2 separate regions of the Homo sapiens genome follow, and region 2 is linked to region 1. The links come from fine-mapping of genetic effects on gene expression. Tissue or cell type: atrial appendage. Region 1 holds a variant in brackets; the other region holds the start of a gene. All regions are shown on one strand. Distances are between the middles of the regions.

Region 1 (2,906 bases):
CTTTTGGGCTAGCTGCTTTGCATTAGAGAAACTTTGCATTAGAGAAACTACAGGGTCATTCAGCTCACTCTTCACCTCTCTCCTGGTGCCACACTCTCTTTGCTTCTCTTCTTATTTTCTTCCCCTCCTCACTCTTTGTCTCCCTCGTGTTTCTGTTTTTTCCTTCCCTCCTCCCTCATCCGTCTCTCTGGTTCTCTCTGTCACCTCTTGCTTCCATCCTCTCCCTCTTTCTGGTGCCTGGTGATTGAGTCAGGAAGGTGTGGAATCTGTTTTCCTGCCCCCAGAACTGTGACTTCAAACCAAGGGAGGAACTGTTTGGGAGAAAGACTGAGGAGGGTTTAGCAGTTATCAAAGGCCCATCAGTGTCGGGGCGGTAGACTTCCTGTTTATACAGCCCTCCTCCTCCTGGGAGGCTCAGCTGAGCCTGGCCAGCTGTGGCTTGGGCAAGCTGCCGGCTCCAAGGCTCAGGATCCCACTGAACTTGTGTCAGGCCCGGCCTCTTACCCTTGGCCCCAGGCTCATTGAGAAGTCCTGGGGTTCCTCACACCTGCTGCTGGCTTCCTCTGCACACTCCCTTGCATCTCCCAGTCTTCCTCTATCAGGGGGTCCTGGGAGTGCGCACTTTTTAGGAGGAAGATGCTGGTGTGTCCACCCTTACCCCTGCAGTGCACAGAGGGGCTTGGTTGGTGGAATGCCTCTGACCCTCTGTCTTAAAGGCAGGAGCCCCGTGTCTCTAAACTGGAAAGCCACCTGGGAATTCATGCATCTGTCCAGCCCTCACATACTGATTAAATACCATTCAGGTGTGAAATATCGAACTGTTCTCCTGCTCCTTCTAGGGCCCTGGTGACACAGATGGAGAAAGGCAAGGATCTCCGTTGGCCCTATGCTCTCCTGAAGTTCACATGCTGAAGAGGACATAGGCAGTGGGCAAGGAAACAAGGGACTGTCAATGGTGACACTGCTGTGGGGCAGCTCAACGGGGACAGAGGCAGGGCTGGGGTGCAGAGGGCGGTCTGCCCGACCTGACCAGGGGAGCAGGGATTTGTGGAATTGAGACCTGAAGAGTGAAGAGGAGACAGCCATAAGCAGATGGGGTCGCTCCAGGCCAAGGTCCTGAGGGGGCCCAGGCTTGATGGCACGGAAGCCTGGGTAGTTTGGAGAGGGGCTCGAGGAACCCTGGAAGGTAGCCAGAGGCACACCTCGCTGGACCTGCAGGCCCTGGAAAAGAGTCTGGATTTGATTCCAGTGGCATGGAAAAGCCATTGGAAAATTTCCCT[C/T]CAGAGGAAAGGCAGCACCAAATTTATGATTTAAAGCCCAAACTGGCTGGCAGGAGCTGCTAGAGGGTCTGTCTCCACAGAGGACCCTGTTGTATGACCTGCACCATCCAGCAGGGGTCTGGTCGCTGTATCAGTGATGACCATGAACTAGGCCCTGAGGGGCCTGGATATCACACACACAAGCTCCTCAATACTCCCGGAAACGGCTACCCATGAACAGAGAGAGACAGCTAGGGGTAGAAAGCAGCGAGTGTGGCATAGTCAATGAAACACCAATTGTCCCTCAAGTGCCACCCCTAAAACCTCTTGTGAGTGTTTGCTCCAGGCCCATCTGGGTTGGAGGAGAAAGCAACTTCCCCTTGCAGGTTGAGGGCACGCACAGCTTCAGGCCAACCCTTTCTACCTCCACACCCGATGGCTCCATATTGCTGGCGTGGAATGTGTTGTATTGACTCACACGGGAAGTGGGGCCCTTTCACCGTGGGCACAGAGTGGCTTGATGGAGATGGGTAGGCAGCAAGGACAGGGGTGCCATCTTAGAGGATTATCCCTGTGTCCCCATGGCTGCCCATGGCAGGGCTCCCCTTGAATCCTCACTTGGAAAAAGCCTCTTCCTGAACAGCAAATGTTTAAAATGGCCTTGTGACCCCACCGAGCCAGTCATGGAGCCCTCAGATGACCTGCCGCAAGACACTTGTCCCAAGCCAGCCACCTCAGTGGGCAGTCAGCATTCTGGGGACCTTATCAGAGGACATGTCCTTCCTTGGCATCAGGTGATCCAGCCTCTGGGCATATGGGAACTGTGGGGGTTGCATGTGGCAAGACTGAAGATTTCCCTCATCAGTGATAAAGACATTGATAAAAGGCTTTGCCACCCTAGGCTTCAGGGTCATATCGCAGAGGGCAGGCAGAATAGGCTCTGAAAATGATGAGAGGAGCCCAGGCCAGATTGAGAAGAGAGCACCTTCTTGCCATGCTCGCCCTGTTAGAAAGAAGCTGGAAGCTGACGTATCTTCACCTCCCATGCTGTGCTCTACACATGGAGTAGTATTTAGAATAACGATAATGAGAATCATCTTCACGCTTTGAGTATGTATTAAGTGCTTATTATGTTAACCATTTTTCATATATTTTCTCAATTAGTTCTCCCCTAAATTTAGAAATATTTTGAGATGACAAGGTTGGAGCTCAGAGAAATTAAGTGACTTGTCTGAGGTCACACTCACACAGGCTAAGTCTGGACTATAGCTCAGGTCTTCCTAACTCCAAAAACTAGGCTTGTAACACCTAAACTTAATTCAGACTAAAGTTGTAAAGTTCCTATTCCAGAGTGTGAATTGATTCATTCTCAACAAGTCCTTTGGGCATTGTTGTAACTCATTAAGCTAAAATCCCCTTGGGGAATTTTTACACACAGTGCTGGAACTGGGTCAGCTTGTGTCCCCTTTGGAGTTGAAACCTGGGACCAGAGTGAGCCGAGTTAGGAAGCAGCTCCCCTTGCAGAGTGCTGAATGCTGCCTCTTCTTGTTTTATTTTTACTGTTTACATGTACTATAAAAGTAGTGCAGGCTTGTTTCAAGAAATGCAAACATCATGGGAAAATATCATCTGAAAGTGTAACAGTCT
Region 2 (2,906 bases), 61 kb before region 1:
CTCTTAGGACTAAGAGACTGATTCAAGAAGATATGGGACAACATATTTATTTATTTTTCTTTTCTGCTTATCCCAATTTGTTTTTTCCCCTTCTTTGCCTTCTTTTCCTCTAACCCAAATCTCTCCATAATCACTGATTCAGCTGTTGATAATGTGAAATTCTAGGGAAGTTCCAAACAGGAGGATTGAAGGAGCGCAGGGAACTTGGCCCCAAAATATGGCTCCCTGGTATGAGTATTTTCAATTAAAGTCCCTCAAGATCAACAGAAGCTGGAAGAGTCCTCTCCCTTATCTACATGAAGACCCTGCAGACCCACCAAAGAGAACAATTACTTTTCCTTCTCCTCCCTCTTATCTCATTATCTATTGCAGAAAAGAAAACCAACACGTGACCACACCTGAACAGACGCTTTCAAAAAAATAATCCATTTCTCCAGCTTATTAAATTTTCAAAGAGAACCATTTACGAATAACTCTCTGTTTCTTGACCCATTCATTCTCCTTAATAATAATTTATTGCCCCTCAACAGAATCACCTACATTCCGCCTTCCACCCTCCTCTCTGAAAAAACGCTGTATAAGTATCTGGACCTCATGGGATATTGGGTAATCACCTTATTTTTCCCGTGTACACGTTAATAAATTTGTATGCATTTCTCTTATTAATCTGCATTGTACACTTAAAAAGTATTAAAAGAGTGAAATTTATGTTATGAATATTTTATCACAATAAAACAATATTTTAAAAAACTGACAAAAATTCTTTTTAATTTCTTTCAAGTGAGGAATTACCAACTACTTAACAGGGTGCTTAGAATGGGGGATTTTACCAGATAAGTGGCATGCTTTTTACAATTAACAATTGCTGTTATTTACTGAGTATCCACTTTCTCTGCCAGCTCCTGCGTTAAGCACTTTACATATACTAATTCAAATCCTTAAAAAAGAAAATAAAGAAGAGAAAAGGAAAGAAAAATAAGAACATGTAAGGCTATAAGGTGCCTCATCTTTGCCAAATTCTACAGACTGGCCAGGAGACTGCAGGCCACTGCAGCTTCCTAAGGCCACTCAGGACAAGGCCAGTCCGCAATTTGTTTCACTGTGAGACGGCTGCGCGGTCAGAGCCCAGACACGGTCATCAGACTCCCGGACTTGGATTCAGCTCCACATGGTGTCACCCTGGGTAAAGGATGTACATCTCTGCGTGCCTGGGTTTGTATGGATGGCAGCATGGATGCTCAGGCAACTGACCCGTCAGGACTGCAGCAAATGAACAGAAGCTGGGGGAGAGCGCGGGCTGGTGCTGTACGGAGCTCTGGCGCAGAAGGCGCTCACCAGGGGTGCCCAGAGCCGGGGTCTGTGCGCCGCGGGTTGGATCCGGGTCACAGGCTCTGGGTGGACAGAGTGAGAAGACAAAATGAGGATGTACTCCTCAGATGCTCACGAAAGGCCTCCTTCCCCTTCTTTGGGAACGACCCCCCCCCACCCCCTCCCCCCAACAGGCAGTCCCAGGCCGCGCCAGGACTCGGCCGCAGGCAACTCGGAGGAGCGGGAGCCCAGGGGCCTCAGGAGGGCCTCGGGAGTGGGGAGGTGAAGGGGGCGTCGGGAGGGCCGCGGGTGGGAGGCGGGATAGGGAGGCGGGGAGACTCGGAGCGGGGTTGGGGAGGCGAAGAATGGAGGTGGGGAGGTGGGGAGGGGGGCTTCGGGAGGGCCGCGGGTGGGAGGGGGATGGGGAAGCGAGAAGGGGGGGCGGGGAGGGGGGCCTCGGGAGGACCGCGGGTGGGAGGTGGGTGGGGAGGGGGGCCTGGGGAAGGATGGAGCCCGCTGAAGGCAGGCGATGACGCAGGCCCAGTGTACTTCTCCTGGGGGCTCCTTTCTAGGCCCACGGAAGCTCCGTGTTGGTTTCTTTGTACCCATATCACACTCACTGTATTTCTTCTTTCCTTTCCTCTCCCAGCAGCTGTAAGCGCCCTACAGTTTGCATGGGAAGGCAACAGGGACTTCCCTTTTGCACTGTCTGCGGGTACCGCTGTTCCAGCCCTGAGAGGACGAGGGGACGCTGCGCTGTGGGGAAAGTCCGGGTGGCAGGAGGTGGCGGGGCTCCTGGAGGAGGTGCTGGGATGCGCTGCTGTGGCTGCAGAGAAAGGTCCCGAGGACGCAACCCGTCCCTTCCCCCGAACTGCGAAGGAGCCCCGCGGGGAGGACGGGCAGGGTCTCCCGGAGGGAGGAACAGGGGAGCCTGGAGTCTCAGGGTTGCGGGGAGCAGAGGCGTTCTGGGTGGTGAACGTCCCCAGCCTGCCCTCCCTGCTCACTGCGAGGTCGCGCACCGGCTCTGCTCCAGGCCTTCCCTCAGCCCTGGCCTCCAGGCAGTTTCCATTTTTGCCAGGTGGATTCTGTACGGCTTCATTTATTCAGAATCTGGATCAACAAATGAACACTCAGAGAGGAAAAGGGTGTTTGGAGGGGTGGAGAGGTTTCCAAGCAGGTGCCCACCTGAGGGCCCCCTGAAAGGGGACTTAAAGCCGAGTTTCCAGCTGGGCCACCCTTTTTTTTTCTTTCTTTCTTTCAGAAATATAAACAAAGAGCTTGAATTATTTTGAAATAACTGTTGGTAGCTGGACTGTGTTCTCTTGACCGCAACATTGCTCTGGGACTGAATCGCGTGGGTCTCTGCTCTTCCTAAGTGTTACATAAGAATAGCGAACCCATGAGGTCAGCTTCTAAACCAGTTTCTTCCCATAACCTCCTGGACCAAGTCCCAAGCAAGGCCCAGAGGAGCTCAAGGACCCACTCTCCCCGGGACACTCCTCGCTCTCTAGTTGGAAGGAGGAAATGAATGTCCCCCAGTAATTGAAGGCTGCTCATGTTTGTGTAGAAAAGCCAAGCACAGGCCCATATTCTAGAGG

Direction of the effects. Positions count from the first base shown, and alleles are read on the strand shown. Sizes are in standard deviations (SD) of each study's normalised expression.
For the expression in atrial appendage of the gene that starts at base 1,407 in region 2, allele C in region 1 goes with a lower level than allele T (large effect, 1.1 SD a copy in GTEx).

What was found. PIP is the estimated chance that this variant, and not a neighbour inherited with it, causes the effect. A credible set is the group of variants that fine-mapping cannot tell apart.
Region 2: LINC02881 starts here. The variant in region 1 is the best candidate, but not a certain one, in a credible set for the expression of LINC02881 in atrial appendage (GTEx, PIP 0.72).

The regions. Positions count from the first base shown.
Region 1 is chr10:44,352,099-44,355,004 of GRCh38, forward strand. No RefSeq gene overlaps it. Among named protein-coding and RNA genes, the nearest start is that of CXCL12, 32 kb to the right of the region's middle. The variant C/T (reference allele first, on the strand shown) is at 1,281.
Region 2 is chr10:44,291,344-44,294,249 of GRCh38, forward strand. LINC02881 (long intergenic non-protein coding RNA 2881) reads left to right here and starts at 1,407. Exons shown (of 3, transcript NR_164139.1): 1 at 1,407-1,590; 2 at 1,958-2,146; 3 at 2,570-2,906. It overlaps LOC124902544 (a long non-coding RNA gene), which reads right to left. Exons shown (of 3, transcript XR_007062369.1): 3 at 2,571-2,906.